4 linked regions of the Homo sapiens genome follow. The protein of the gene in region 2 purifies or fractionates together with the protein of the main gene of each other region. This does not show direct contact. Each region holds a gene or a part of one and is shown on either strand. Other genes may lie near its edges. The genes, in order: MYO5B, SH3BGRL, MYO5C and SVIL.

Region 1 (6,710 bases), on a different chromosome or scaffold from region 2:
TTTGAATATTGGAGACTGTTCCATATGCATTGAGAAGAATGTGTATGCTGCTAAGTGGGGTGTTCCATATGTGTTTGTTAGGACTAATTGGTTTATAGTGTTGTTCATGGCCTCTATTTTCTTATTGATCTTCTATCTGGTTCTATCCATGATTAAAAATGGGGTATTGAAATGTCCAACCATTACTGTAGAACTATCCTCCCTTAAAGTCTGTCAATTCTCCCTTCAAATATTTTGGGGTTCTGTTGCTAGATGCAGATGTTTATTATATCTTCTTGATGAGTTGAACCTTTTATTAAAATATAATGTCCTTCTTTGTCTCTGGAAATGACTTAATTTCTCCTTCATTCTTGAAGGGTAGTTTTGCCAGATTTAGAATTCTTAGCAGACAAGATTTTTTCCTTTCAGGATTTGAGCTGTGTCATCCCACTGCCTCCTAGCCTCCATGGTTTCTGATGAAAAACAGCTGTTAATCTTATTTGAGGATACCTTATACAGTCAGCCCTCCATATCCACAGGTTCCATATCTGCAGATTCAGCCAACCACAGATTCAAAATTCAGTATTCACAGGATGCAGAACCTGTAGTTATGGAGGGACAACTTTTTCTATCTATAGGTTCTACAGGGCCGACAGCAGTACTTGCATATCCATGGATCTGGGTATCTGTGGGAATTCCTGGAACCAATCCCCCATGGATACTGAGGGATGACTGTATGTGACAAGTCACTTCTTTCTCACTGCCTTCAAGACTCCCTCTTTGTCTTAGGGTTTTGACAATTTAGTATAATGTGTTTCACTGTGAATCTCTTTGCCTTTATCCTGCTTGGAGTTCATTGAACTTTTTGGATGATTACATACATGTCTTTCATCAGATTTGGGAAGTTTCTGGCATTATTTCTTCAAATATTTTGTTGCCCCCTTCTTGCTCTTTTCCTTCTGGTACTCCTGTAATGTGTATGTTGGTATACTTGATGGTGTCCAATAGGTCTGTTAGGCTCTGTTCATTTTTACCTCATTATTTTTATTTTCTTCTCAGACTGGATCATTTCAATTGCTTTATCTTCAAATTCACTGATTTTCTTCTGCCTGCTCAAGTCTGCGGTTAAACTTCTCTAGTGAATTTTTCATTTCAGTTTTTGTACTTTTCCTAAAATTTCTGGCTTCAAATAGGAAGCAGGGAGGGGCTCTGTGCCTTTAAATTTTCCAGTTGATGCCACTAGTGGAAGCCATTGCATCCCAAGGAATGTCTAAACCAAGACAGGCATCTGCTGGGACCCACCAGATCAAAGGGCACAACCCCAAATTTTTGGAGGACAAGGTCCCACTGCCTACCCTGGCCAGCTAGCTACTCCAGGAATGTGAGCTGCTATCCCCATAGCTTCAGGGGAGCTGAAGAGAGGGGGATAGTAGCTGGGTCACACACACAGTTCCCTTAGCAAAGATCAGCAGCCTCTCCCTTTACCAATCAGTCTCCCGATTGTTATAAATGTCCAATCAAGTTCCAGAGTTATGAGATAGTTGACAATCACTGTTTCTACTTCAAGGTAGCTTCAGTGGAGGGACCAATCCCTAGGGCTTCCTACTCTGCCATTTTATGTGATGTACTCTTCTCCCATTCTACAGGTAAAGAAACTGAGGCATAAAAAATTCAGGAATTTGCCCAGGGTGGTGCCAGGATTAGAGCTCAGCTGTCTACCTAAAAAAAAAAACCCATGCCCTTGGCCACTTCACTATAGTGCCTCTCCATATGGTTTGCACCTGAGATGTATTTTATATTCTCCCTTAGACAATTTTTTAAAGAATGCTAGAATTGGGAGAGTGCTTACAGCCCTCTGATCTCCAAGAAGCCTAAGTCAGGGCTTCTCTCCCCACTAAATACCTCAAGGGTGAGGAGATCACATTCTCCTAGTCCTGAAGTTCTACCTAATTGTCGTAGAAATCTTTCCATGATATATGCCAACTCACTTTTGTGAATTCACTTAAACTGGCTATTTTTAGGGGTACTCAAACTTTACATGGTCTTATTCTTCCCCATAGGCACAACTACAAGAGCGGAATGACCCTCAGCAACTGCTATTAGATGCCAAGCACATGTTTCCTGTTTTGTTTCCATTTAATCCATCTTCTCTAACCATGGACTCAATCCACATCCCAGCGTGTCTCAATCTGGAATTCCTCAATGAAGTCTGAAGATGCATGTTTCCAGCATTAGTTTGATTCCCAATGTGAGCAAGAAGGAAGTATATACAGTAAAGTAAATTCAAGGATCTGTTAAATCTGGTAAAAGTAGATCAAATCAGAGATTGACAGCCTGTGGAGGGTGCTGAACTATACAGAATTAGACACAACTATGTCATTATTTTTTGTACCTACTGCTCAGAATAAAAACACTTGAAATATGGAAGATTTTAAGTTTGATTTCAGTCCAACACATATACATAATTTATAGACACCAAGCAGTCCCCATAGACATATAAAAGGTGTCAATTCTATAAAACGAAGCTGCCTAGTTTTGATCTTTGCATAGAACTAGAGAATGTCCAAATTAAAATACCAAATATATATAAGTCACATAAATTGCCTTCAAAGGGCTTTAACAAATAATGGTACTAATAACCATGATAATGGCATATACTGACATTTCCCAAAGTTTGCAAACCATAGGTGTGGTTGAGTTTGTGGTGAGATGTTTTAAGAACAAAAATATGGGGATGAGACTTCTGAGAAATATTCCCAAAATATTTTTTAATGGCTGATTATACACAGACAGTGGTGTAACTGACCTCCAGACCAGACATTTTGAGTACTGGTTTCTGAAGCAAAATTAGAAGTGCCAGTCCTCAGTGTGCTCAAACGCTTTTGTGTTATCTTGATTTAATGGAAGAGATTATTAAAATGCTGCTATCCCAAACTCCAAGTGAGAAAGATGGAAAAATATTTTGTTTCTGATGCTAGTCCATACACTTTCCAAGTCCCACAAAACTTTCACAAAAATGTATATAAGCTAAATATTAGAAACGGATAACAAACTTGTTTTATTTATAGATGTAAAAACCAAACAAGTCAATATGAAAGCTTTTAATCTCTTAATACCATTAAGCTTCCAGTAAGAGCATCACATAATGCTCTACTGTTCCAGAAACCAAATAGTAAAACAAACTAAAGTTCGCACATCAGATCATCTGAAAAACCTTCAAAAATAATCAGTTCAGGGATATTATACAAAAGTTTGGGTTTTTTTTTTTTAAGAGAATAAAATGGCTTAGGTCAACTTTCCCTTTTCAGGTTATTTTCAACGTTTTTCAAATTTAGCACACAAAAAATTGTAAATATCTCTCCCACAAAATAAGGATTTTAAAAAAGTAATTCAGTAATATAACAGGCTTAGATGTTTGCTGCTCTTAGAATTTTTTTTAACTTGTTTTTGGTTTCTTCAAAAGCAAGCATTCAATTGGAAACCCATATTCTTTCCACACTTTTTTTTACTGTCTTTTCTGTATTTCTTGATAGCAGTATGCTGTTCCCATAAGAAAAAAATGGTATTTGCAAATCATGGAAGAACAGCCTCTGTATTACATTGAGAAAATAAGATTTATCCATGAATTGGAAGTAGAACAGCCTGCCTTCACCCTCTTTTACTCAACCACCCAACTTAAAAGGCTCTTGGAAACACAGCACACTCCACGCTACCTTCTGCACTGTGCCCTTAGAGCACAGCTTCCTCAGTTGTTCTCTGCATCTCCTGGGGCTTAGGCCAGTCTTAGCCTGGGTTAAGGCTGCTGACATTGTGTTCCAATCAGTTGTCATGGGCATTATCCCCTCTACATCCACATTAAACATGCCGGCTTCTCTTGGGCATCGGCAGAGCTGTGCCTTTTTCTTTCAGTTACAGTTACATAATCACTGACGTCCATGACACTTACCCATGGATCCATGTGCTGACTTCATTTAGAAGGCCAATCTAAAACAACTGGGTTTGTGGCTACCTCTTTAAAGTTGTTTGTGAAGGATAATTTGTTTTTTAATGCACTTTAGTTTGAAAGTGAGTCTCTTATGTAAGGACCATCCTTAAAAGACCAAAAATGCCTTGTTAGAGTGTTAAGGAGTTTTGACATGCAGTGGTTCCACAAACACAGTGGCTTACTATCCTTATACACTGTCTTATACCATCATTCTCTCCATCTCTCTTGGTCACTACTCTCTGCTGTCACTGGTTAATCACTAGGTGCCAAGAGCTTACTGAATAAAAGCTTGGCAATTAGAATAAATGGGGAGGGAAGGACCTTATGAATAGTCCATTTAGCCTAAGAAATGGCAGATTTAGTTCTTCTCTTCCAAAAGATAAAGGTATATCCTGGAATTGTACTTAAAACTTACAGATGACTAACAAATATATACTTTATATGTAGTTAATATTTAGATCTGTCTTATTTAATACTTGGAGGCTAGAAGAAGCATCTTTAGGGGAACTATATAATCTTTTGTTAGCATTTTCTCTGCATTTTAAAAAATCATTTCAATTCAAACATTTATCAGTGTCATGAAATCAGTAATGACTCTTTAACAATTCAGGTTTGAACTCTGCATTAGATGTCTCTTTAATTTTTTAATATTTAAAATTTAGTTGACATTTTTTTCACCAGGTGCCTTTAGCGGTTACTAAGATAACTGACATCAGTTGTTTCTCTGAAATAAGTGTTGCTGTGGGAATAATTTTAATGTTCAAGGTGATATCATGGGGGAGTTTTGTCTTTTAAAACATTAGAAGCATTTTAAATATTAAGAATCAAATATTTATAGATCAAAACTTGTGTTTTAAGTATTATACGGGACCTGTTTACTTATAGTAAATGTGAATGTACACATGAGTTGTTGCTGAAGCTGACAAGCATATTACATACATGCATTTTCCCTGTGCCCTCATAGTTGCAGTTAGAGTTCCAGTACCTGTAGGCTCACCTGGGAGGCAGATTAGACCCAAAGGTAGATGTTTTTCCCCTTTCCATGAAGCATGTCAGTGGGAGTTGCTTCCTTTGATTTCCCTAGTACTAAATTTTAAGGCTTTTGTAAAAACAAAACAAAACTAGGAGCTTGGAACAGTTAAAAATCAACACTGCTACCATCAATTCATCAAATATTTACTTAGAGCTTTCATACATTAAGATTCCAGTAACCAATAAATTAGAATTCATTTCTTCTGCATAAAGTAAATTTTCATACACTTGACCTACTAAGACAGCAAGGGTGTCCTAAATTGAGGCATTTGTATAATGCCTGCATAACTAAATGGTCACTAAAATGGGACAGCATGGGGCAAGACCTTGTAGTTCTTCACAGAATATTTGTGGTCAGTTTCTCCAATTAATTTGCTGCATGAGCCAAATAACCATAATTCACTTTTTATACCCACTGGTGCCATAATTAGAGAATTAGAGGGTGTAGACAGAGGTTAATGCCAATGAGAAACACAGGACAGGGTTTTTTTTATTATAAAGGTCATTAGATACAAAAGATTGTTTTTCAAAAAATTTCTAATTCTAACAAAGGGGATCAATCAGAAATGAAACTAAGCTACTTTCTAAAGTGACACTGTATCAGAATAATCCAGATTTGAATATAACATTTTGCCACCAACTGACATTTAGATGAAGGACTGCCTCTCTGAAAGAGTTCAGATCATATTCAGGGGTGAATCCAACACCATGGAAGAAAGACTACTGATGAAAATATTTTCCCACTTTGCACAAATCTGTAAACTACACCTTTGTTTATAGAAAAATGCTTGTAATAGTCACTGTAATATTTAGCTGTGGATAAAAATTTGTGGAAATAAATACTTTTGAATAAAGAGGTGTGCCAAATCTAAATGAAATTTAAAACTCTGCAGCTACAGGTTGACAAAGTTTCTTTGTAATGCTCTCTTGAGAAGCTTCATTATGGGGCCTATATTCTAATACGTGTCAAGATCATTTAAACCAGAGGTCAGCATCTTACAGTCCAAAAGTTGGGGGCAGGGAGAAACTCTCAGATAACAAGGCTTATTGAGCAATTACTTTAAAGCTATGGAATTAAAGGCAGTTTTGGTGTAGGCAAAGACAAGTAGATCAACGAAACAGAATAGGGAGTGCAAGGATAGGCCCAATCCTATGTATAACATAGCATACGGTAGAGATGGCATGAAAAATCAGTGGGGAAATAGTCATAAGATCTGTATGGAGGAATTTGTAAAATATAAGTGAAAAACAATGACAACATTAAAATGGAGAAATAATTAGGTACAAGAATTCGAAGACTCCATACCACTAAAAGTTTGTCAGTTGTCCCCAAGTTGATCTATAGATTAAAAATCAAAATTTCAACTGTTTCTATGTGAAAACTGACAAGCTCATTATAAGATTTATATGGAAGAGCAAAGGCCCATGAATAAGGAAGACCCTCCTTGAGAAAGTGGGAAGCTTTCCTTAGCAGGCATTGAGACTTACAAAATTTCAGTAATTAAGATGTGTGAGGATGACAGACATGGAAATTTTTTTTTTTTTTTTGAAACAGAGTTTCGCTTTTGTTGCCCAGGCTGGAGTGCAATGGCACAATCTCAGCTCACCGCAACCTCCGCCTCCCAGGTTCAAGCAATTCTCCTGCCTCAGCCTCCCTAGTAGCTGGGATTATAGGTATGTGCCACCATGCCCAGCTAATTTTGTATTTTTAGTA
Region 2 (8,336 bases):
AGATATTGGGTAGAATGGATGGTGGTTACCAGAGGCTGAGAAGGGTAGGGGGAAAGAAGGATTAAGAGAGGTTGGTTAATGAGTACACAAATACAGTTAGATAGAAGGAATAAGATCCACTGTTCAATTGCACAATAGGGTGGCTATAGTTACCAATATAATTTACTGTATAGCTAGAAAAAACAGCTAGAATGTTTGGAATGTTCCCACCACAAATAAATGATAAATGTTTGCGGTAACGGATATCCTAATTACCCTAATTTGATCATCACACATTGTGTGCATGTATCAAAAGATCATATGTCCCCCATAAATATGCACAATTATGATATATCAATAAAAATAAAAAATGAAATCCATTGCAAAGACCAACATACTTGTTTTCATTTCTAAACTTTCAAGAAGCAAGTGCTACTCTTCACTATTAGGCCACTTTTTTTGTTTTGTTTTGTTTTTGAGAGAAAGTCTCGCTCTGTTGCCCAGGCTGGATTGCAGTGGTGCGATCTCTGCTCACCGCAAGCTCCGCCTCTTGGGTTCACGCCATTCTCCTGCCTCAGCCTCCCGAGTGGCTGGGACTGCAGGCGCCCGCCACCATAATAAGTTAACATTGTCTTGCCAATTATCACAGATCCAGATCCCCCACTCTGCCCAGTATAACCAGTATAACATCTGTTGTTTTTTTTTTTAATGACAACCAGTAGGAAGATTAAGAAACAGTCAGCTACCACCAATCCAAAGCAAAGAAGCTTTTAACTGTTCTTCAGACAACTAAACTTAGTCACTTATTGAAGTATCTCACTATGTGCAATTGTAGGACTCCATCAGGATATTTGCTCAAAACTTTCTAACTTATGTATTAAAACAAACAGGGCATCAATCTTAAAGGAAAACTTTAGTACAGCAAACTGAAAAGTGCCTTTCTGAAGTAAATAATCACCACTCCATTCATGTTACAAAGAAGTACTCACTTTACACTGTTTTGGTATTATTTAAAAGTGTTGTAATAGTATAATAAAGCAAGGATTTATTTTGGCATTATGAAGTAGAATTTTGATAACAGGTTCATTGAACTATAATTACTACAGTAGATAAATTTCTAATAAATTTCTAACTACTCATGACAAAAAATTGAAATAAAATACAAATACCATAAACATCTGCCATTTGCATGGTCTTCAACAATAAAGTCCAACAAAGATGGGAAGAATAGACACTGAAGACTACAGAGGAGGGAGGGAGGAAGGCAAAGGTTGTAAAATTACCTATTGGGTACTACGCCCACTACCAGGGTGAGAGGTTCAATGGTACCCCAAACCTTGCACAGTATACCCATGCATCAAATCTGCACATGTACCCTCTGAATCTAAAATAAAAGTTGAAATCTAAATAAAAAAAAAAAGGAGTCCAATAAAGGAAATAATAGAAGACAGCAGCCATTTCTAAGGCTCTTGGAAACTTAAGACTTAACAAAGAGAGGTGCAGTTATTCTTACTTGAATAGAAATTCTGAAAGCAGTTTCTTGTTGAATCTACTTTTAAAGAAGGGGTAGAGGAAGGAGAAAGCAAAGAATAAATAACAGTATTGAAACTGTATGACTCCCAAAGCAAAACTAACTGCCTGATCTGTTCAGTCTCATTAGGGGTTTAACTAAAGGCATTAAGTTGGACTTTACAATTATTGGATTGAGTTGAGACTCTGAGCAACTCAAATTTTACTTTGAAATATTAGACAACATGTATGGAAAATAATAAAGCAAGAGGCTCATAAAATTAGGTCCAAAGGAAATATAAAAGGTGTTCTTTTTTTTAACCTAAACTTATTCAAAAAATGTAAGATTAAATTTTCTGATATTCCAAAATTGCATAAACATATCCACACATGGTGGCCAGAGAAGACAAAGTTCAAATATCAAGGTTCTTGTGATTTAACATAACCTCCACTTCCATTCCACATCCTCTCAGGTGTAAATAAACAAGCCAAAAAATAAAAACACACAACAACCTGGATTAGCTGCTGCTCTAAAGCTCAAGAAGAGGGAAGGGGTTCCTATACCCTACAATCTGAACCCACACATCTGTTCTTGCCACTGTCTGCCTTTCTCTTGAGTTGTAAAAAGCAGAAGCACTTTCATTTATCATGGATATACACTCATCTTGCACCCCAGTTTATCATATTCTCCCGACAGCTGCTGAAAATTTGTTATTCTAAATTAAGAGTAAGTGAATCCATGAAAGAGAAAGTCCTATCATTTGAAGCAGCAGCAACTCAGGCTGCCACTACACAAGAAGCCACTGAGCTCCCTATCCAGTTCTCAATATACTTGAAGCAGTGAGAGAAATTTAAAAGTAAAATATTTTGAAAGAATAGAAACAGTCAAAATAAGGGACAATATGGGGGGAAAACTGAATCTCGTGTCATATTAAGTTAAAAAAAAATTTACGTCATTGTTACCAACTTCCCCTCCCAATTTGTCTAGTTCTAACAGGCCTTCAAGCTCAAGTTAACCACTTTCTTCTACACACTCTCAAAATAACTCTATTACCAGGGTCTCACTCACCCAGAATAATTACAATGCCTCGGTAGGCCTCCACTCAATCCCCACCAGTTACAGCATGTGTACCCCCATCCTTTACAGAAGTGCACTCCTCCTTGTCTCAGTACTTAGGGCGTATTCATCAAATGTCTCACTCTTGAAACTCACCAGTGTGCGATTTTACTTGACTTCACGTAACCCTAAAGACCGTATAGCACCATCTCCCATCTCCCAAAACTTGGTAGCTTTCGTTTTCCTTCAAAGCAGAAATGTGCCCCCCAACGTCACGAAGCAAACAAAGCTGAACTCTATGTGGAAAAAAAAAAAAATGAAATCGATGCAACAAAGGGAAAAAAGGGAAGAAGAAGGGTGGGATCGGGGATGCATGAGTCTTCCAAAGGAGAAGCTGCCAGAGGAACTTCTGCATTTTAATGGTTCTGGGGCAGCAGAGGACTGGTGTGTAGGAAAACAACAAAGGTGGACTCCCCACTCTCCTTACCGCTGTAGAGCCAGAGGAAGATGCAATATATACACGGATCACCATCCTGGGAACAGCGGCTGCGGTTGTTTGGGTCCTGAAAAGGGCTGTGGAGCAGCTGCAGCAATGGCTGGAATCCAGCTAGGGGCTGAAACAGCGGTTGGCAGAGAAGGGTGGGGGAAGGTGGAAGGAGAACTCGCCAGAGCCCCGCCTCCGCCTTTAGCAGCTTCCACCGAGCTCTCTAAGCGCTGCAGTTCCAGCCCAAAACCCCGGAAGGAACAGGCTGTTTGCATCAATTCTATTTTTTTTTAATAGGGAATCTCGAATAGCACCGCGAGATCTGTTGAAACATTGATTTTTGACGATTCCTTCCCTGAGAAGAGGGCGAGGAGAAGAAGAAAGAAAAAGGAGAACTGAATTGAATTAGATTAGCATGAAGGACCTTTTCACGCGGAGACTAAAAGTACTGCGCATAACTTCCTGCTCAGAAATATATGCAAATAAGAAGACAGATCCTGAAAGAGCAAGCTGTATGTTGAAAACCCATGTTCTCAAAGCCTTGCGCATTTTAAGATTCCTATTACGTAGTGATTTTTCTGATCTTAGCTCGTTGTAGGAATTAGGCACTAAAGTACTGAGCAATGCTGCAGAGTTTTGAAGGAAAGTTTCAGGTTTCCTTAAGCCCAGAAATGGCAGGATTGGTTTTCTTTTTGAATTTTGTGTTTTGTTAAATTAGGGAACCCTGCTTCCGTGGGAATTTGCAGGAGGCCTGATTGGCAAGTTTAAGAATGAAGGAATAAATTACAAAGAAAAGATTGAAAATATTGTGTAAAAAGATGGATGATTTTTGTTTTGTTTTGCTTTTTAACTGACTGAAGTAAGGGATTTGGGAGAACATATTGCAGATGTTGAAATGGTGAAGAGAGAGATCAGATGGTTATTTGTAGCTCTAAGGAAATGAGCAAACAGTTAATAATGTCCAGAGACAGACCATATACTTCAAAGTGTAGTTTTAGGTTCCCAGATTATGTTAAATGAACAGAAAAAAAGGAATTTGCAAGATGAATGAGAGTGGAGAGGAGTCAGTCGCTTGTCCTACTTCTTTTCCTTTGCTGTTTTTCCACTGTCTCCAGTCTAGTGGTTTACTGTCTTTGCCTAGGCTCAGTGCTTACAATAGCTTTGTTAACTGTTCCCTACCCACAGGTTTTCCCTTCTCCAATCTGTCTTAAATACTAATTCCAAATTAATCTCTTTACATGTTGTCCTTAAAACAACCTCAAGAGGTGGGTACTATTACATTAATTTTACAGATGAAGAAACTGAAACTCAGAAAAATAGTTTTCCTAAAATCATATGGTTAGTACATTCCAGAGTTAGGAACTCCAGAGGCCACCTTCTTATTTTTTTTTAATTATACTTTAAATTCTAGGGTACATGTGCACAACGTGCAGGTTTGTTACATAGGTATACATGTGCCATGTTGGTTTGCTGCACCCATCAACTCGTTGTTTACATTAGGTATTTCACCTAATGCTATCACTCCTCCAGCCCCCCACCCCCCGACTGGCCCCGGGGTGTGATGTTCCCTGTCCTGTGTCCATGTGTTCTCATTGTTCAACTCCCACATATGAGTGAGAACATGTGGTGTTTGGTTTTCTGTCCTTGTGATAGTTTGCTTAGAATGATGGTTTCCAGCTTCATCCATGTCCCTGCAAAGGACATGAACTCATCCTTTTCTATGGCTGCATAGTATTCCATGGTGTACATGTGCCACATTTTCTTAATCCAGTCTATCACTGGGACATTTGAGTTGGTTCCAAGTCTTTGCTATTATGAATAGTGCTGCAATAAACATACATGTGCATGTGTCTTTATTATAGAAAGATTTATAATCCTTTGGGTATATGCTCAGTAATGAGATTGCTGGGTCAAATGACATTTCTAGTCTAGATCCTTGGGGGATCGCCACACTGTCTTCCACAATGGTTGAACTAATTTACACTCCCACCAACAGTATAAAAGCATTCCTATTTCTCCAAACCCTCTCCAGCATCTGTTGTATGATTGCCATTCTAACTAGCATGAGATGGTATTTCATTGTGGTTTTGATTTGCATTTCTCTCATGACCAGTGATGATGAGCATTTTTGCATATGTCTGTTGGCTGCATAAATGTCTTCTTTTGAGAAATGTCTGTTCATATCCTTTGCCCACATTTTGATGGGGTTGTTTTTTTCTTGTAAATTTGTTTAAGTTCTTCGTAGATTCTGGATATTAGCCCTTTGTCAGATGAGTAGATTGCAAAAATTTTCTCCCATTCTGTAGGTTGCCTGTTCACTCTGATGATAGTTTCTTTTGCTGTGCAGAAGCTCTTTAGTTTAACTAGATCCCATTTGTCTATTTTGGCTTTTGTTGCCATTGCTTTCAGTGTTTTAGTCATGAATCTTTGCCCATGCCTATGTCCTGAATGGCATTGCCTAGGTCTTCTTCTAGGGTTTTTATGGTGTTAGGTCTTACATTTAAATCTTTAATCCATCTTGAGTCAATTTTTGTATACGGTGTAAGGAAAGGATCCAGTTTCAGCTTTCTACATATGGCTAGCCAGTTTTCCCAGCACCGTTTATTAAATAGGGAATCCTTTCCCCATTGCTTGTTTTTGTCAGGTTTGTCAAAGGTCAGATGGTTGTGATGTGTGGTGTTATTTCTGAGACCTCTGTTCTGTTCCATTGGTCTATATATCTGTTTTGGTACCACTACCATGCTGTTTTGGTTACTGTAGCCTTGTAGTATAGTTTGAAGTCAGGTAGCATGATGCCTCCAGCTTTGTTCTTTTTGCTTAGGATTGTCTTGGCCATGTGGGCTCTTTTTTGGTTCCATATGAACTTTAAAGTAGTTTTTTCCAATTCTGTGAAGAAAGTCATTGGTAGCTTGATGGGGATAGCATTGAATCTATAAGTTACTTTGGACAGTATGGCCATTTTCACGATATTGATTCTTCCTATCCATGAGCACGGAATGTTCTTCCATTTGTTTGTGTCCTCTTTTATTTCATTGAGCAGTGGTTTGTAGTTCTCCTTGAAGAGGTCCTTCACATCCCTTGTAAGTTGGATTCCTGGGTATTTTATTCTATTTGTAGCAATTGTGAATGGGAGTTCACTCATGATTTGGCTCTCTGTTTGTCTGTTATTGGTGTATAGGAATGCTTGTGATCTTTGCACATTGATTTTGTACCCTGAGACTTTGCTGAAGTTGCTTATCAGCTTAAGGAGATTTTGGGCTGAAACAATGGGATTTTCTAAGTATACAATCATGTCATGTGCAAACAGGGACAATTTGACTTCCTCTTTTCCTAATTGAATACCCATTCTTTCTTTCTCTTGCCTGATTGCCCTAGCCAGAACTTCCAACACTATGTTAAATAGGATTGGTGAGAGAGGGCATCCTTGTCTTGTGCCAGTTTTCAAAGGGAATGCTTCCAGTTTTTGTCCATTCAGTATTATATTGGCTGTGGGTTTGTCATAAATAGCTCTCATTATTTTGAGATATGTTCCATCAATACCTAGTTTATTGAGAGTTTTTAGCATGAAGGGCTGTTAAATTTTTTCGAAGGCCTTTTCTGCATCTATTGAGATAATCGTGTGGTTTTTGTCATTAGTTCTGTTTATGTGATGGATTACATTAATTGATTTGCATATATTGAACTAGCCTTGCATCCCAGGGATGAAGCCAACTTGATCGTGGTGGATAAGCTTTTTGATGTACTGCTAGATTCTGTTTGCCAGTATTTTACTGAGGATTTTCACATCGATGTTCATCAGAGATATTGGCCTAAAATTCTCCTTTTTTGTTGTTGTGTCTCTGCCAGGCTTTGGTATCAGGATGCTGCTAGCCTCCAGAGGCCACCTTCTTAACTATTACTGTTAACTCACTGCCTGGAAGAGTGAAAGTACTAAAAAAAAAGTTAGCAATTTTTTCATCCTAAAACACCACTTTCTTATATTACTGAAGACAACGTAGGCAGAAATACTTAAATTAGCTCTCCATTGACTATCGAACTAAACCTAAATTATGTTGCTAAACAGTTTTCACCATAATCTAGGCCCACACTATTCATACAATCTTACTTAGTGCTCCCCCAAACTAACTTCCCTATGTACGTAATCATTGTTGACTACCTGCTGCAATCATCATGCTTATGATCACTCTCATGCCTTTGCTCTTCCTGTTTCTTTCTTCACCTTCTCCCCACATTCTCATAACCTTTTCTGCCCTCTCCACTTATCCAACTCTTGCCTTTGCTAGACACAACTCAAAATCTTTATACAAATAATCAGGCAAAAGTAAGTCAGCATGATCTAGTCACCCTCCTCATTGCCAACATCAGGGCTACTGCTATTGCACTTTTCGGCCTATGCAACAGGAGACTCTTTCTTCTGTTTTTTTTTTTTCATTTTGCAAAATGAACATAATTTGTCTTATACTACCGTAGTATGACATCCCTTTCCCTTCTCAAGTGGACACTGCTATGCTCTCACCCCTCACTCAGAACTAAGAGTCTCCAGGTGAGTTATTTTCATTTGCCACACCAAAAGTAGCTGAATTTTCTTGATCAGCAAATACCCCCTCAGCAGAAGCACTCTTTATCATCACTGAGCTCTTTGGAGTTGTAATTCACCCTCTTTTCTCGCCCTGATAATTCCTCACTTTCCTCTTGAGGTCTTTGATATTTTTCATGTATTATAAAATACCTTCCAATATTTTAAATTCCCTTTATCAAGAGAGTTCCAGATCACCTATCCCCACCTTTTCCAGAAGCAGAAATTTTACCTACTTTTAAACTTTTGAGAAAGTTAAAATATTATTTACCTACAAAACACTACAAAATTATGGTGTAGAAATGTTTAATGAACTGTCTGAAAAACATTATCATGTCAACTTCATTGAATATTAAGTTTACTATTTGTAAAAATTTCATTTCATTTGAAAACAATTTGGAGTTTACATTTTTATCTCACATAAGCAGAATTCCTGTTTCTGCAGAGAAATCACTGTCGAGCATATTTTAATGAATTGCTTGTGGCTGAAAATTTTTTAAATTTTAAAACAAAGTTATACAAATTTTAGAATATGCTTAATATTTATATTTAAGTGGGATTATAAGTACATTTGCATTTTTATGTTTGATACACTGTGAAGTGGTGTGTATTAGTCTGTTTCACACTGCTATAAAGAAATACCAAAGACTGGGTAATTTATAAAGGAAAGAGGTTTAATTGACTCACAGTTCTGCATAGCTGGGGAGGCCTCAGGAGACTTACAATCATGG
Region 3 (7,851 bases), on a different chromosome or scaffold from region 2:
AACTCATAGAGCTCCTGGCACTGCTTCAAGGGCCCCTGTGGGCTGTGTTGGGCTTGTCTAGGTTATGTATCTCTTTTCAATTATTTTCTTAGTTAATCATCAAATTTTTAATTGAGCAACCTTCTAGAGCAGTTGGATTTACATGCACTTTTGGGCACGTGGATTTGCTGCCATTTATTCTAGAATTTTTGAAGGGCTAGACCCCTGGACATAGCAGATAGCTCTATTGTTTAGGATCAAACAAACCTCCAGCAGGATCCTTGGAACGAGGAAGGAGCCAGGACTTAGCAGAGCACGCCAAGGTATTCGCTGAAGGAAACTGGCCCTTCCAGGGGACTGCATGGAACCCGGGGGGTTGGGAATACAGTGCCCCAAAACCCAGTGTGTCTTTTAAGTTCAGCCTCCCTAGCCAGTGTGCCCTGTGCGTGATCACTGTAAAGCCACACCTTTCAAATCAGGAGGTGTAAGAAGTTGTCTTTAACCTAAGGGAAGAGGAAACAGTTTGCTAAAAATAAGGCCATTACCTGCTGGAACTGTCACAGTAGGTTCTAATTAACTTGTCTCCTCTTGTTGTTTTCAAAATGATGTATTCTAATTCAAAGTAAAGACTGTAGAGACAATTCTAAATTATTTTCTTCTTTTTTAGGGGGTGTTGTGGGGAGGGTCTCACTCTGTCACCCAGATTGAAGTGCAGTGGCACGATCTCAGCTCACTGCAGCCTGGACCTCCTGGGCTCAAGCGATTCATCCACCTCAGCCTCCTGGGTAGCTGGGACTACAGGCGTGCTCCACCACACCTGACTAATTTTTGTATTTTTAGTGGGGACGGGGTCTCTCTTGTTGCCCAGGCTAGTCTTGAACTCCTGGGCTCAAGGGATCCGCCTGCCTTGGCCTCCCAAAGTGCTGGGATTACAGGTTTCAGCCACCATGCTCAGCTCTAAATTATTTTCTTCTTTTGCTGCGTAGGCTTCTTGAAAAAAGTTTTGAACTGAAAACACAAGACTATGAGAAGCAGATTCAGTCTTTGAAAGAAGAAATTAAAGCTCTCAAGGATGAGAAGATGCAACTCCAACACCTGGTGGAGGGGGAGCACGTCACTTCTGATGGCTTGAAGGCGGAAGTGGCCCGCCTGAGCAAGCAGGTCAAGGTAGAGCGGCTCTCACGTTCAGCCCCGCCCTCTGGTTACGTCATTTGATTGCAATTCCAAGTTCCCACAGATTAGACAGCTAAAAGCATCTGTGTAAAGGCCACAGGCAACTGGAGCCTGATTCCTTCAGTCCTTCCAACTGTGCACCTCCAGGCTGCCTTTGATTTAGCAATCATTGTATTCCATATTTTAAAAGTCAACTTTCTAACTTTTTTGAAATTACATTTATGTAAAGTTATTTAAATATGTCGATGTAGAGAATACTCCCAAATTAGACTGTAAATTGAGGTGAATCCTTATTATATAATCCATCACTATAAATCTATAAACACCTGCATTAAAGTTAAGTTACCTTATTATCAAAATCTTTCATTTAAACTGTTATTAGAAAATTTACTAAAACAATTATCCAATGCACAGTGTGGTGAATGTAGTTAATAAGAGCATATTGTACATTCAAAATTGCTATGAGTAAATCTTAAATGTTCTCACCACAAAAAATGACAAGTATTTGAGGTGATAACATGTTAATCAGCTTGAATTATTCCACAATATATTCATAAATTATAACATCAATAAAGCTATAAATTTTCAATGGTAGAAATTTTTAAGTAAATTTTTATAAAGCTGAGAAGGAAAAATCACATAGAATTTTTAAAACTGCATAATGATATATAAAAATATTGTTACCTGCCGGGCACGGTGGCTCAGGCCTGTAATCCCAGCACTTTGGGAGGCCAAGGCAGGTGGATCATGAGGTCAGGGGTTCTAGACCAGCCTGACCAACATGGTGAAACCCTGTCTCTACTAAAAATACAAAAATTGGCTGGGCGTGGTGGCAGGTGCCTGTAATCCCAGCTACTCAGGAGGCTGAGGCAGGAGAATTGCTTGAACCTGGGAGGCGGAGGTTGCAGTGAGCCGAGATCGCGCCACTGCACTCCAGCCTGGGTGACAGACCGAGACTCCGTCTCAAAAAAAAAAAAAATTGTTACCTGTATCTATCATTAAAAATATATAAATATTCCTGGGCAATTTAATAAAATGCTCTAGAGAAAAATGAATGAATGGATGAAGTAATGATCCATGCTTGGACAATCAAGGCTTAAGTGAATTGTTTCCCTACCAGAAAAGTTAAACCTGAGTGTACCTACGTTCTTAAATGTAAGACATTTCATCATTAAGTTGGAAAGCTTTTAAGCTTCTACTAAATATGTGAAATACATATTAGTAGAGTATTTGTAGGATTATGGAAATAGTCTCTGTAATTGTCATGAACTAGCCATGCGTGGTTTAGAAGAGCTTTTGGAATTGCATCCGGGTGGCCACTGAATTCCACAACTGAAGTGTCTGTCTTTTCTGGGCCCCGTCCCCTATTGTTTAAAAGTAGGAGGTCAGACCACATGATCAGGAAGGGTCACTTTCATTCCTGTGACTGCTTCACTCTTAGCAGCCACATGAGCCTGATGTCAGTCAGTCTGTGGGAGTCCTGTCATCTGGCTGAGGTCTGAGGTCTGTATCTTAAATGTAGGAACTTGTGAGACTGCGCTTGCAGAGAGGTACCAGTAGGTGTCACTCACTTCCTCTTTGGTAGCTAAGACTGGTTCACTCTCCAATGTGATCCATTAAGATTACTTGGGGCTGGGCACGGTGGCTCAGGCCTGTAATCCCAGCACTTTGGGAGACTGAGGTGGGCGGATCACGAGGTCAGGAGATCAAGACCATCCTAGTTAACACGGTGAAACCCCATCTCTACTAGAAAAAAAAAAAAAAATTAGCCGGGCGAGGTAGCACACACCTGTAGTCCCAGCTACTCGGGAGGCTGAGGCAGGAGGGTCGCTTGAACCTGGGAGGTGGAGGTTGCAGTGAGCCGAGATTGCACCACTGAACTCCAGCCTGGGTGACAGAGTGAGACTCCGTCTCAACAAAAAAAAAAAAAAAAAAATTACTCTGGGTTTTTGTGTTTTGTTTTTTGGGTTTTTTTTGAGACAGAGTTTTGCTCTTGTCACCCAGGCTGGAGTGCAATGGCACCATCTTGGCTCACTGCAACCTGCCTCCCAGGTTCAAGCGATTCTCATGCCTCAGCCTCCCAGGTAGCTGGGATTACAGGCATCTGCCACCACACCTGGCTAATTTTTTTTTGTATTTTTAGTAGAGACAGGGTTTCACCATGTTGGCCAGGCTGGTCCTGAAGTCCTGACCTCAGGTGATCCACCCGCACTAGCCTCCCAAAGTGCTGAGATTACAGGCGTGAGCCACCGTGCCCAGCCTACTCTGGTTTTCAAAGAAAATAACTCATGATCATCAAGTTATATGTGTTATAGTCAGTCTTAAAAGCCTAAGTAAATGCAAATCTGACTTGGAACATTTACTGAAACATTACAAAGAAAAGCATGGCCTTCAGGATTTGGATAGTCCTGAGTCCCCCATAAACCTGGCATGTGACCCTGAACGTGCCAGTCAGCCTTCAGTTAAATGTAGCTGCTGTTTGCTAATTGAGAAAAGATCACTCTACTTACCTCATAGGCCTGTTAGGAGGATTAGGTCTTCTAGGTAAAGTGCTCAGCACATATCAGTTTGATTCTCCTGCTTACTCTCTGTAGAAACAGGGGCTGGAGCCCTTAAATACTCAGGGTAACTGAAAAAATATCAAGGAGAGTTTATTCACCTCTGCTGTCCCTGAAAGTCCTTATATCTCCCTCAGATACAAAGCAAAAGCACAGACCTGTGATTCTTATTCAAGCTGAGCTCACAAGGGAGAATAAAGGCAGAATACTGCCTCTTCCCCACAACCAGAGCTGCCCAGGCCACCTCCTTCCCAACAGCCAGCTAACTCCCAGACCTCCTGGACTCACCAGTCTCTGCCACTGCTCCACATCTAAGCTGAGCTGAAGCCAAAACCCACAGTTATGAAGGTGGCAACTTTGCCCATGTCCTTGCACTCAATATTTTATTATCCATTAAAAGAGAATTTTAGCCCGTGATTTTACCTTTCTCAGTCTTCCCCCTGTCCCACCCCACCCCAAGCTTATAGTAGGTATTTTTTTTTCTTTATGTAACAGGGAAGTTAATTTTTTTTTTTTTCGAGGTGGAGTTTTGCTCTTGTTCCCCAGGCTGGAGTGCAATGGTGCAGTCTCAGCTCACTAAAACCTCTGCCTCCCGGGTTCAAGCGATTCTCCTGCCTCAGCCTCCCAAGTAGCTAGGATTACAGGCGTCTGCCACCATGCCTGGCTAATTTTTGTATTTTTAGTAGAGATGGGATTTTACCATGTTGGTCAGGCTGGTCTCAAACTCCTGAACTCAGGTGATCCACCTGCCTCAGCCTCCCAAAGTGCTGGGATTACAGGTGTGAGCCACCATGCCTGGCCCAGGGAAGTTAATTCTACTGATACAACCCATTAGATCTGGCATTTTGAGTAGTTAAGCATGCTTCAAGGCCAAGCTGTGTAGGCAGTGATGGTTTAACAAGATTTTAGCTAAGAAAGAAACTGCAGTGAGGATGTCTTGCATAGACACGCAACGCTGTAATTGTGTTCCCTTTGTCTTATATAAAGCATAATCGTTGTTTTTTCTTTACCTGATTCCGTCATTGCTGTGATTCAGACAATCTCTGAGTTCGAAAAAGAGATAGAACTACTTCAGGCACAGAAGATAGATGTGGAGAAACATGTGCAGTCACAAAAACGGGAAATGAGAGGTAATAAAAATATGAGTCTCTTAGTCCATGGGTGCAGACTGAATTTATCATAGCTGTGTCGCTGCTAAGGAAACGTGTCCTTTGGTATGAATTTGGTTGGACATATGGTAGATTGCTTAGTTGATAGGTTGAATAGCTAGTTGGTTGAATACCTGGAAGATTGGTTAGTTGGTTGATTGGATAGCTGGTGAGTTATTTAGCTGGAGACTGTGAAGCTAGAAAACTGGGCCCTGGAAAGGGAATGGGAAAAGATAAATCATCCACAAATGTAATATATACAACTCTGCCTTTCCCTTTCAGAAAAGATGTCAGAGATCACCAAACAACTTCTCGAAAGCTATGACATTGAAGATGTAAGAAGCAGGTAATCATTTTTGCATTATCAAACATTTTAAGACATGTAAACATGTAAAACGTGACAGAGATGATAGATTTTCTTATCTTCCTTATTTTGCAGGCTCTCTGTGGAAGATCTGGAACATTTAAATGAGGATGGAGAACTTTGGTTTGCTTATGAAGGACTAAAGAAAGCAACACGGTTAGAAATTCTCCTCAGGGATCTTCTTTATTTTTCAGAGATAATAAATAGACTATTGGAAAGTCCAAAGTTTACCTTACATAGATTGATACACAAATTCCTTATAGTAGAATGACTGAATAACCACTAGAAATATTTCTCTGAGAAGTAAGTAAGTAGCTTATTCATGAAGAGCAATCTCTTTGTGGGATAAAATGCCTAGTAAAAAACCCCATAACCCATACAGTGAAAACTGATTATCAAATAAGTTAGTTAATGTTGCCAGAAATATGTAGATACATTTAAATTTAAGGCATGTGCTGCATTTATTTAAATTAATAAACTTTATTTTTCACAGCAGTTTTAGGTTCACATCAAAGTTGAGCAGAAATACAGAGAGTTCCCATATATCCCTGCCACCACACACACACAACCTCCCCCACTGTCAACTTCCCAAACCACAGTGATGTGTTTACTATGACTGGTGAACCAACACTGACACGCCACTGTCACCTCAAGTCTATAGTTTACATTAGAGTTCACTCTTGGTGTACATTCTGTAGGTTTTGACAAATGTATAATGACTCGTATCCACAACTGTAGTATCATACAGAACATGTTTTGTTTTGTTTTGTTTCTGAGATGGAGTCTCGCTCTGTTACCCAGGCTGGAGTGCAGTGGCAAGATCTTGGCTCACCGCAACCTCCACCTCCAGGTTTCAAGCGATTTGCGTGCCTCAGCCTCCCAAGTAGCTGGAACTACAGGCATGCGCTACCACACCTGGCTAATTTTTGTATTTTTAGTAGAGACGGGATTTCACCATGTTGTCTAGGCTGGTCTCAAACTCCTGACCTCAAGTGATCCGCCCACCTCGGCCTCCCAAAATCCTGGGATTACAGGTGTGAGCCACTGCGTCTGGCCAGTATTTTTTAAACTATTAAGAGTGTAAAAATATAATAACTTCTAAAATTTTCTTCATTGTTAACTACATATTAACCCCCACATAATGCTTCCTAACTAGCTAGAAGATTTTATAATTAGGCATTCCTGATTCTGTAGCCTGTAACCGTGAGTGCATAAGTAAACTTGATGTACTTCGTGCACGGCTCTTGTTGTGGGTCTTCATAACTGCCTCCCAGCAGTCCATAAAACAGAACAAAGGCCATGTGGTTTATTTCTTGACCCCTCCTTTAATAGTGTTTTGGAGAGCCATTTCCAGTCTCAGAAGGATTGCTATGAAAAGGAGATTGAAGCTTTGAACTTCAAAGTGGTGCATCTCAGTCAAGAAATCAACCACCTGCAGAAGTTATTCAGAGAAGAAAATGACATCAATGAAAGCATCCGTCATGAAGTTACCAGGCTAACATCAGAGAACATGGTATGGTCTCAGCCAGGGGCCCCAGTCGTGGCCATCATACTAGAGTTGTTCTTTGTCAGTGGCGTCAAATTCAGTTTCTTGGCAGTAAAAGAGTGGATATAAATTACTTTTTCCAGAAGTGAAATAACTTGGTCTGGTGATTAAACTATAAAATGACTGCAGACCAGAGAGCACTCTGATACAAGAGTGTGTGTGTTCACCACAGGATGGCTGCAGGCGCTGTGATTGTCTGTGTGTGCGCGTAAGTGTGTATGTTTTAAAGCCTGTATATTTAAATCAAGCCCTAACCCCTTGGAAAGTGACCACAAAATTGAAGGGTAGCTCTTGAGACAGGAGTGTGTCAGAAGGCCAGTCCTGCTCATGCCTGAAATCTCACCTTTTTTTTTTTTTTTTTTGAGATGAAGTCTCACTCTGTTGCCCAGGCTGGAGTGCAATGGCATGATCTCAGCTCACTGCAACCTCCGCCTCCCAGGTTCAAGCAATTCTCCTGCCTCAGCCTCCCGAGTAGCTGGGATTACAGGCGCCCACCATCACGGTCAGCTAATTTTGCATTTTTAGTAGAGACAGGGTTTCACTATGTGGGCAAGGCTAGTCTCGAACTCCTGACCTCGTGATCCGCCTGCCTCAGCCTCCCAAAGTGGCATAAGCCACCGTGCCCGGCCTTCAAATCTCACCTTTTCAAGGGCTTCCTCTTCCATGACGTGCATTCCTAGCCACTGCATTTGTCTCATTCTTTCTTCCAACTCATGCCTACTGGCCTGGAGAAATGCTTTAGGAATCTCCTCATTCAAAAAGCCATCTCTGTCTTAACCCCACACTGCTGTGGCCATCACCCATTTCTTTGGGGTCTTAGTCAGACTTACAAAGACCCTCTAGGCATACTTCCTCCGCACACCTCCCATTCACTGCCCACCACCCCATTCTGTCGTGTGTCCCCACCACTGGCTGACTCTGCCTGCACAGAGCTGAGCACTAAGGGTTCCTTTGCACCCTCATCTTACTCAGTGTCTCAGCAGCCTCTGGCGATGCTAATCTTGCCCTCTCTGCCTTGTTCTCTTGGCTTCCAGGACGCCCCGCTCTCCCAGCATTCTTGTCCCGCCTCACTGGCTGCTGCTC
Region 4 (7,851 bases), on a different chromosome or scaffold from region 2:
AGTTCTGTCAGCAACTATCTTTTCTCTAACATTCTTTTGGTGCTAGAATTATTCATAATGATGCCCAGACTGGCCACATGCCTTCTGAATGAATGAATATACTCTGCATTGCATGAAAAAGCTTGTGAATGTCTAGTTGAGTGCTTTAAAAGAGAGGTGATTGTTGTATCTTGAACTAAATAAAAAGCATAAATAATCGTGAGTGCTCTTACATTTTCAGACGACAATGAAATTACAGCGTTTGGTCAATAGGTGTCTGTATGCCAGGAACCTTCCCCCACAGTCCGTGTTCTGGGCGTGTACATGAGGAAAGCTTACTGATTCAAGGGACCAGGCTCATTATGCCCTAATGCATGCTGGTGGTGGATATTAACGCATTTTTCTGTGGCTTCTGGGTATTTATTTAGTCAGAAGGGACCCATTCTCCCCCAGGATAGCATCTGACCCCTGCCAGCTTTTACAGGGGTAGAGTTAGTTTTGCACCTCCTGGGCATACATATGCAAATTGGAAACTCAACTCAGGATCATCTGACAAGTAGTTGACATTAGACACCAAAATGCTTTTTCACAAGTTATTCTCTCTCAGGTCAGTTTCCATTCACTGGTAATCTGTGATCTACGCATGCTTTCCTCCTGTGAGGCCGTTACTGCACTTTGCAACTTAAATCCTTTTTCTTTCTTAAAGAGTTAAAGTTAGAGAAAAATTGGTGAAAGAGGAAAGTGCTCGAAACAGCCCTGAACTCGCCTCAGAGTCCGTAACTCAGAGGAGACACCAGCCAGCGCCAGTCCATTACGTGTCATTTCAGTCTGAGCACTCAGCCTTTGATAGGGTCCCCAGCAAGGCAGCAGGCTCTACACGACAGCCAATCCGTGGCTATGTCCAACCCGCAGATACCGGTCACACCGCCAAGCTAGTGACGCCAGAAACCCCAGAAAATGCATCTGAGTGTAGCTGGGTAGCATCAGCCACCCAGAATGTCCCCAAACCTCCCAGCTTGACGGTTCTAGAAGGTGACGGAAGGGATAGCCCAGTTCTCCATGTCTGCGAGTCAAAAGCAGAAGAAGAAGAAGGGGAAGGAGAAGGAGAAGAAAAAGAAGAAGATGTGTGCTTCACTGAAGCTCTCGAGCAAAGCAAGAAAACCCTACTGGCTTTGGAGGGTGATGGGCTAGTGAGAAGCCCAGAAGATCCCTCTAGAAATGAGGACTTTGGTAAGCCTGCTGTGAGCACAGTCACCTTAGAGCATCAGAAGGAACTGGAAAACGTGGCACAACCCCCTCAAGCTCCGCACCAGCCCACTGAGAGGACAGGCAGGAGCGAGATGGTTCTCTACATTCAAAGTGAGCCTGTGTCCCAAGACGCCAAACCAACTGGTCACAACAGGGAAGCCTCGAAAAAGCGCAAGGTCCGTACCCGCTCTCTGTCAGATTTCACAGGCCCCCCTCAGCTCCAGGCCTTGAAGTATAAGGACCCAGCTTCCAGGAGAGAGCTGGAGCTGCCCAGCTCCAAGACCGAAGGGCCTTATGGGGAGATCAGCATGCTGGACACAAAAGTCTCTGTCGCCCAGCTCCGAAGTGCGTTCCTGGCATCTGCCAACGCCTGCAGGAGACCTGAACTGTAGGTGATGCTTCACACGCCCTCCAGCTGTGTCACTTGCACGTCCCTGGCAGAATGATTCACTCCTCGACCTGTGTTGTGTTCTGCATTGAATCATATTAGCTTAGCTCACAAGTGCGTGCAGGGCGACTATGCGGAAAATGGCTCAAAAACTACCACTCTGCTTCTGCCTACTAATGGGGAACTAGTGGATTGGGTGTCTGGAATGTCTCCTTCCTTACGTGCATGGTAGAGGCATGAAGAGGGGTTTGGTGGTGTCTGTCCCTTGACTCACGGAGATGCATAATCCTTTGCCATCTTCTCTTTCTCTGTCTTCGTTTGCCTTCCTTATACTCTCTGCCCTTTGATTCTCAAAGCAAATCACGGGTGGAGAGGTCGGCTGAAGGACCTGGCTTGCCCACCGGTGTGGAACGGGAGAGAGGGTCCCGGAAACCAAGACGCTATTTTTCTCCTGGTGAAAGTAGAAAAACTTCCGAGAGATTTAGAACCCAACCTATAACTTCAGCAGAACGAAAGGAATCGGATAGGTAGGCATGCGTATGCGCAGTTTCCTCATCCAGGAACGTGGCAATGACACAGGAGTTTTACCACACTGACGGTCTTGACGCTATTTATATAGGATGTTGGCGATTCCATAATTGTTCCATCTAACCTATAAGCGTTATTTATTTGGCTTATTTAAAAGTCTTTTTAAAGAATATTAGCCTTTACAGCGGTATTATGATACATACACAATTTTACATTGCATTCAGATGATAAGAAGTAAGAAACATTATTTTTCTTTATTTAATGGTTTTAATGTTTTTTACCCCTTGTTAAATTAGACTCCAGATTGCATATTCACCAGATTTTACAGTGAAAATAACTGAGGAATTTTATATTCATTTTATAAATGTCCATCTACTTGTTGTATTTGAGTTTTATACTGAAGTGTCATATACTATTGCATAGAAATGGTAAGATTTGTCTGGAAAATTGTCATCAGTGGTGTTTAACAAGTTGTTCTTGTGCCTGGTCTCTCTCCACGGGGTGTGTACTTGGCTGGGATTGTGTGCACACACGCTCCACAGTGTTGCTTCACAACTGTATGTGTGTTTTCACAACTAGAATTGCTACCAGGAGGTTATTTCTTAAAAGAATTTAATTGCATTTTTATTTTTACTTTCAGTATGATGTTTTATTTCGATCTTCTGCTCCCACCTGCTAATGTATTATTGTTATTTGCTAATGTCTTTCCTAGGTGCACTTCACATTCAGAAACGCCAACTGTCGATGGCAAGTACCTGTTTCCCTTTTTTTTCTTCTTTATTATCTCATCTAGACTGGATTTAATAATAAGGTTTTTGGCTTTTTGAGAGAGTAAGATGATGGAGCATAACAGTGTCTCCCTTTGCTGCAGGTTTTCGTTCTGTGGATATGATAAAATCTAGTTGAAATTTTCAGACAAGCTTTCCCTTCTTTTTGAGAGCAGTTAGAGAATCATACAGTGACCAATGTAAAAACAACTAATTCAAACCAAAGGAGCAGGTTCTTCTTGTTGTTGCTGCTGCTACTATTTAAAACTAAAAGAAATTCCCCCCATAAAATATATTCATGAAATCTCGATCAGACAAACGTTAGAGTAGAAATCCCTGGACAGAGTTTGCTTTGGTTTGGCTGGGTTGAATTGCAAGGGAAATTAGTACCTTTTCACTGAGCAGAAAGAATGGGCTCCCTGCAAGGGGAAACTACCACCAATTATTATTTTAGTGCACCTATTGTTGTATTCAAAGATTTCCAGGTCAGCCCTGAAAGACTTTTTGGAGACCGAACTTAACCTTCTCTAATGATGTCCAGTTTTTAATTTGTGGCTTTTTGCAGATGAAGAAAAGGTGGATGAACGAGCCAAGCTGAGCGTCGCCGCCAAGAGGTTGCTTTTCAGGGTAAGCTGTGCTGACGTGCTTGAATAGAGATCCCTACTGGGTGCAGTAATCCCAGCTATTTGAGAGGCCAAGGCAGGAGAATCACTTGAGGCCAGGAGTTTGAGACCAGCCTGGGCAACACAGTGAGACCCCCATCTCAAAAAAAATAAAAATTGTAAGCCTTAGGGAGGGGGAATCTTGTGGACCCAGCCTACTTCATGCACCTCTGGGCATGCTAAGGCCCTCCTGCCTCTGGCCCACCTGTTGTTCTCTTCCTAATCTTTGGCTGGTTGTGGCCACCTCATGGACACAGCATGAGTGTACACTTCTGACAACAATACGAGGTGCTCATTAGTGACCCCTCCTGTAGGTCCTGTAGGAGAACAAAGTGAAGAATTTTTACTACCCCCATTTCCTTTCCTTGAATTTCTTTGTTATTTTTAATTTTTTTTTAGAGATAGGGTCTCACTCTCTCACTCAGGGTTGAGTGCAGCAATGTGATCATAGCTCACTGCAGCCTCAACTTCCCAGGCTCAAGTGATGTTCCCACCTCAGCCTCCCAAGTAGCTGGGACTACAGGCCTGTGCCAGCATGCCTGGCTAATTTATGCATTTTTTGTAGAGATGAGGGGGTCTCACTTTGTTGCCCAGGCTGGTCTTGAACTCTTGGCCTCCAGCAATCTTCCCTCCTTAGCCTCCCAAAGTGCTGGGATTACAGGCGTGAGCCACCGTGCCCAGCTCTTTCCTTGAATTTATAAGGGTTCCACAATACTTCTAATCTTAGGAGATGGAAAAATCTTTTGATGAACAAAATGTTCCAAAGCGACGCTCAAGAAACACAGCTGTGGAGCAGAGGCTACGCCGTCTGCAGGACAGGTCCCTCACCCAGCCCATCACCACTGAAGAGGTGGTCATCGCAGCCACGTAAGTGCCCACAGGACTTCTCAGCCTTGTCTATAGTGTCTTTTTTTAAAAAAATACATTTAAAGAGTGTTCAATGAAAATGAGGCATTGGGGAGGTGATTTAGCTAGAAGCCACAGAGAAGTTAGTACTAAGGGATTTTGTTTACTGTGGTCTCTCTAAACTTTGTAATGGGATGTGTATCTTCTAGAAAAACTTGAAAGGAGTTTTTGTTCTATTTTGTTTCTGTCTCTGCATATTGATATTTTAAAAATCTCTTTGACAACGGAAAATAGAAACATGAAACTTGGTGGATTGCTGTGATGAAACCCCAGCTTCCACGGTCACCCGCTCCTGGCCGGTGATGCTCAGCCCGTGTGCCATTCATTTCCCCTTTCCTCCTGTGCTATTTTCAAGCAAACACTAGAGGTCTTACCATTTCATCCATAAATATCCCAGTACGCCCCTCTAAAAGATAAGGTTTGTTTTGTTCTTAATTGCCAGAAATCTCTTTTCTTTTTTTCTTTTTTTTTTTTTTTTTTTTTTTTTTTTGAGAGAGAGTCTTGCTCTGTCACCCAGAACGGAGTGCAGTGGCATGATCTCGGCTCACTGCAACCTCCGCCTCCTGGGTTCAAGCGATTCTCCTGCCTCCACCTCCCGAGTAGTTGGGATTACAGGCATGTGCCACCACACTCAGCTAATTTTTGTATTTTTAGTAGAGACGGGGTTTCACCATGTTGGCCAGGCTGGTCTCAAACTCCTGACCTCAGGTGATCCATGCCTCAGCCTCCCAAAGTGCTGGGATTAATTGCCAGAAATTTCTAAAAATTAAATTGCAGTTTGATAACTTTCCAAACAATAGGAAGTTTGTTTTGAATAATATGTTTCAATATATTCAGAATTAATTTCCCAGAGTAGTTCATTCAGAGATCATTGCTTCAATCAAGTGAAAAATTTTCTTATTTTTGCGGGGGGCATTGTTTGTTTTTTTGAGGCAGTGTCTCACTCTGTTACTCAGGCTGGAATGCAGTGCGCCATCTTGGCTCATTACAGCCTCAACCTCCTGGGCTCAATTGACCCTCCAACCTCAGCCTCCCAAGTAGTTGGGACTGTAGGCCCAACCACCACACCTGGCTAATTTTTGTATTTTTTGTGGTGATGGGGTTTTGCCATGTTGCCCAGTCTGATCTTAAACTCCTGGGCTCAAGCGATCCTCCCACCTCAGCCTCCCAAAGTGCTGGAGCTACAGGCGTGAGCCACTGTACCCAGCCTAGTTTTGTTGTTGTTGATGTTGTTAATTGGTTTTGTGCTTACCTTGGACACACAGACACCCTTCCTGGAAAAAAAAATAGTTCATCCCATTAGGTTATTGACATCCCAAAAGGCCTCTATGTCAGTGCCCCGTTCTGTAGACCTGCTGTTAGATCAGCTGCCTACAGTTCCTCCCCGAGTTGTTCCTCAGTTTCTTGGTGCATTTGTAGCTAAGTATATCCTTGCACTCATTAGGAACTCTTTGCAAATCAGTTTGTTTTTTAAAAAAAGAAATATTTGAATGGCTGGTGTAAAATAACAGGCAGATACCCATGGGAGCAAAACAGTAAATATAAGAAAAATTAATCCCATTTTAAGGCTCAATAAATCTACCTTGATGTGCCTATAGATTGTATAAGAACACTGATACTTTTAAAAAGTAGATTGAGGCCGGGTGCAGTGGCTCACACCTGTAATCCCAGCACTTAGGGAGGCAGAGGTGGGTGGATCACCTGAAGTCAGGAGTTCAAGACCAGCCTGGCCAACATGGTGAAACCCCGTCCCTACTAAAAAATACAAAAATATTGGCCAGGCATGGTGGCGCACGCCTGTAATCCCAGCTACTCGGGAGGCTGAGGCAGGAGAAATGCTTAAACCCAGGAGGTGGAGGCTGCAGTGAGCCGAGATCGCGCCACTGCATTCCAGCCTGGGCGACAGAGTGAGACTCTGTCAAAAAAAAAAAAAAAAAAAAAGGCTGGGCCCAGTGGCTTACACCTGTAATCCCAGCACTTTGGGAGGCTGAGGCAGGTGGATCACGAGGTCAAGAGATCAAGACCATCCTGGCCAACATGGTGAAACCTCATCTCTAATAAAAATACAAAAATTAACTGGGCGTGGTGGTGCGCGCCTGTAATCCCAGCTACTCAGGAGGCTGAGGCAGGAGAATCACTTGACCCCGGGAGGCGGAGTTTGCAGTGAGCCAAGATCATGCCACTGCACTCCAGCCTGGTGACAGAGACAGACTCCATCTCCAAAAAAGAAAAAGAAAGAAAAAAATTAGATTGGAAACAATATTCTAAAACACAGACATAATCTACTGATTTTTTGATAGCTAATATTTGCTTTTTTGAATTATTATTTTTTTTACACCAAGACATGTATTCTCAAGACAGAGTAAATCCTCCCAGCTCTGAACACCTATTCTTACCCCATTTGCTTTGGGTAGCCACTATCTCTTATTTCCTGAGTTTGTATTTGCTTTTGAAGTTCTTTCGTGATTTTTTCTCCCCAAAAATAATTAGCAAAATATTCTGTTAAAATTTTTGATTTAACGTTTCTGAATTTAAAACTATGCTGTCCTTAATGCTTCTTTTCTTCTCTCTCCTTATGAATGTTTCCTCTTTGGCAATTGCTTTTAAAGTGAACCTATCCCCGCTTCGTGTTCTGGGGGCACCCACCCTGTAATGGCGAGACTTCCTAGCCCCACTGTAGCTAGGAGCGCTGTGCAGCCTGCCAGGTACTGGACAGATACAGATGCATGCGGCACCCGGTGCAAAGGTGCCGAACAGCAGATGCATCCTAAAGTCTTGAATGTCTGTCGTTTGTTTGACAAACAAGTCAATGCCGTGAGTTGTTCCAGAATGCGTGGCATTTTGTTTTGTCATAGCACAAGGTGCTGATAACCACATGCTGGCGTGCGTGGGAAAACATTTTGTCTCTCTGCATATGTTATGTGTTAGAACTAGGATCACACTAACTCACGTATCCAGTTGCTTTGTTTGTTTTTCATAATAATGGTCATCCCTCAAAAATTTTGTTCTTCATCTAAATACTGTTATAGCACTTAATAAAGATTAATAGAAAAATGGGACATTGGCCAGGCGCGGTGGCTCATGCCTGTAATCCCAGCACTTTGAGAGGCCAAGGCAGGTGGATCACGAGGTCAGGAGATTGAGACCGTCCTGGCCAACATGGTGAAACCCTGTCTCTACTAAAAATACAAAAATTAGCTGGGCATGGTGGCATGTGCCAGTAATCCTAGCTACTTGGGAGACTGAGGCAGGAGAATCGCTTGAACCTGGGAGGCAGAGGTTGCAGTGAGTCAAGATCGTGCCACTGCACTCCCGCCTGGTGACAGAGCAAGACTCTGTCTCAAAAAAAAAAAAAAAAAAGAAAGAGAAAAAA

The links.
Region 1: the proteins of SH3BGRL (region 2) and MYO5B purify together in Homo sapiens (affinity purification with mass spectrometry; 2 studies listed by BioGRID and IntAct, with this or other methods). This does not show direct contact.
Region 3: the proteins of SH3BGRL (region 2) and MYO5C purify together in Homo sapiens (affinity purification with mass spectrometry; 2 studies listed by BioGRID and IntAct, with this or other methods). This does not show direct contact.
Region 4: the proteins of SH3BGRL (region 2) and SVIL purify together in Homo sapiens (affinity purification with mass spectrometry; 2 studies listed by BioGRID and IntAct, with this or other methods). This does not show direct contact.

Annotation. Positions count from the first base shown.
Region 1 is NC_000018.10:49,821,953-49,828,662, reverse strand, and holds the end of MYO5B (unconventional myosin-Vb), read left to right. Parts: intron 1-2,039; coding exon 2,040-2,192; 3' UTR 2,193-5,874; downstream 5,875-6,710. UniProt on the Homo sapiens protein: May be involved in vesicular trafficking via its association with the CART complex. The CART complex is necessary for efficient transferrin receptor recycling but not for EGFR degradation.
Region 2 is NC_000023.11:81,196,942-81,205,277, reverse strand, and holds the start of SH3BGRL (adapter SH3BGRL), read right to left. Parts: upstream 3,177-8,336; 5' UTR 3,078-3,176; coding exon 3,033-3,077; intron 2,842-3,032; exon of another isoform or gene 2,702-2,841; intron 2,687-2,701; exon of another isoform or gene 2,558-2,686; intron 1-2,557. UniProt on the Homo sapiens protein: Appears to function as an adapter protein that bridges proteins together or proteins with mRNAs. May function as a ubiquitin ligase-substrate adapter.
Region 3 is NC_000015.10:52,222,428-52,230,278, reverse strand, and holds part of MYO5C (unconventional myosin-Vc), read left to right. Parts: intron 1-965; coding exon 966-1,146; intron 1,147-3,662; exon of another isoform or gene 3,663-3,781; intron 3,782-4,720; exon of another isoform or gene 4,721-4,746; coding exon 4,747-4,840; exon of another isoform or gene 4,841-5,070; intron 5,071-5,140; coding exon 5,141-5,204; intron 5,205-5,297; coding exon 5,298-5,378; intron 5,379-6,554; coding exon 6,555-6,735; intron 6,736-7,851. UniProt on the Homo sapiens protein: May be involved in transferrin trafficking. Likely to power actin-based membrane trafficking in many physiologically crucial tissues.
Region 4 is NC_000010.11:29,526,293-29,534,143, reverse strand, and holds part of SVIL (supervillin), read left to right. Parts: intron 1-685; coding exon 686-1,615; intron 1,616-1,971; coding exon 1,972-2,142; intron 2,143-2,855; coding exon 2,856-2,890; intron 2,891-3,475; coding exon 3,476-3,537; intron 3,538-4,299; coding exon 4,300-4,439; intron 4,440-7,087; coding exon 7,088-7,183; intron 7,184-7,851.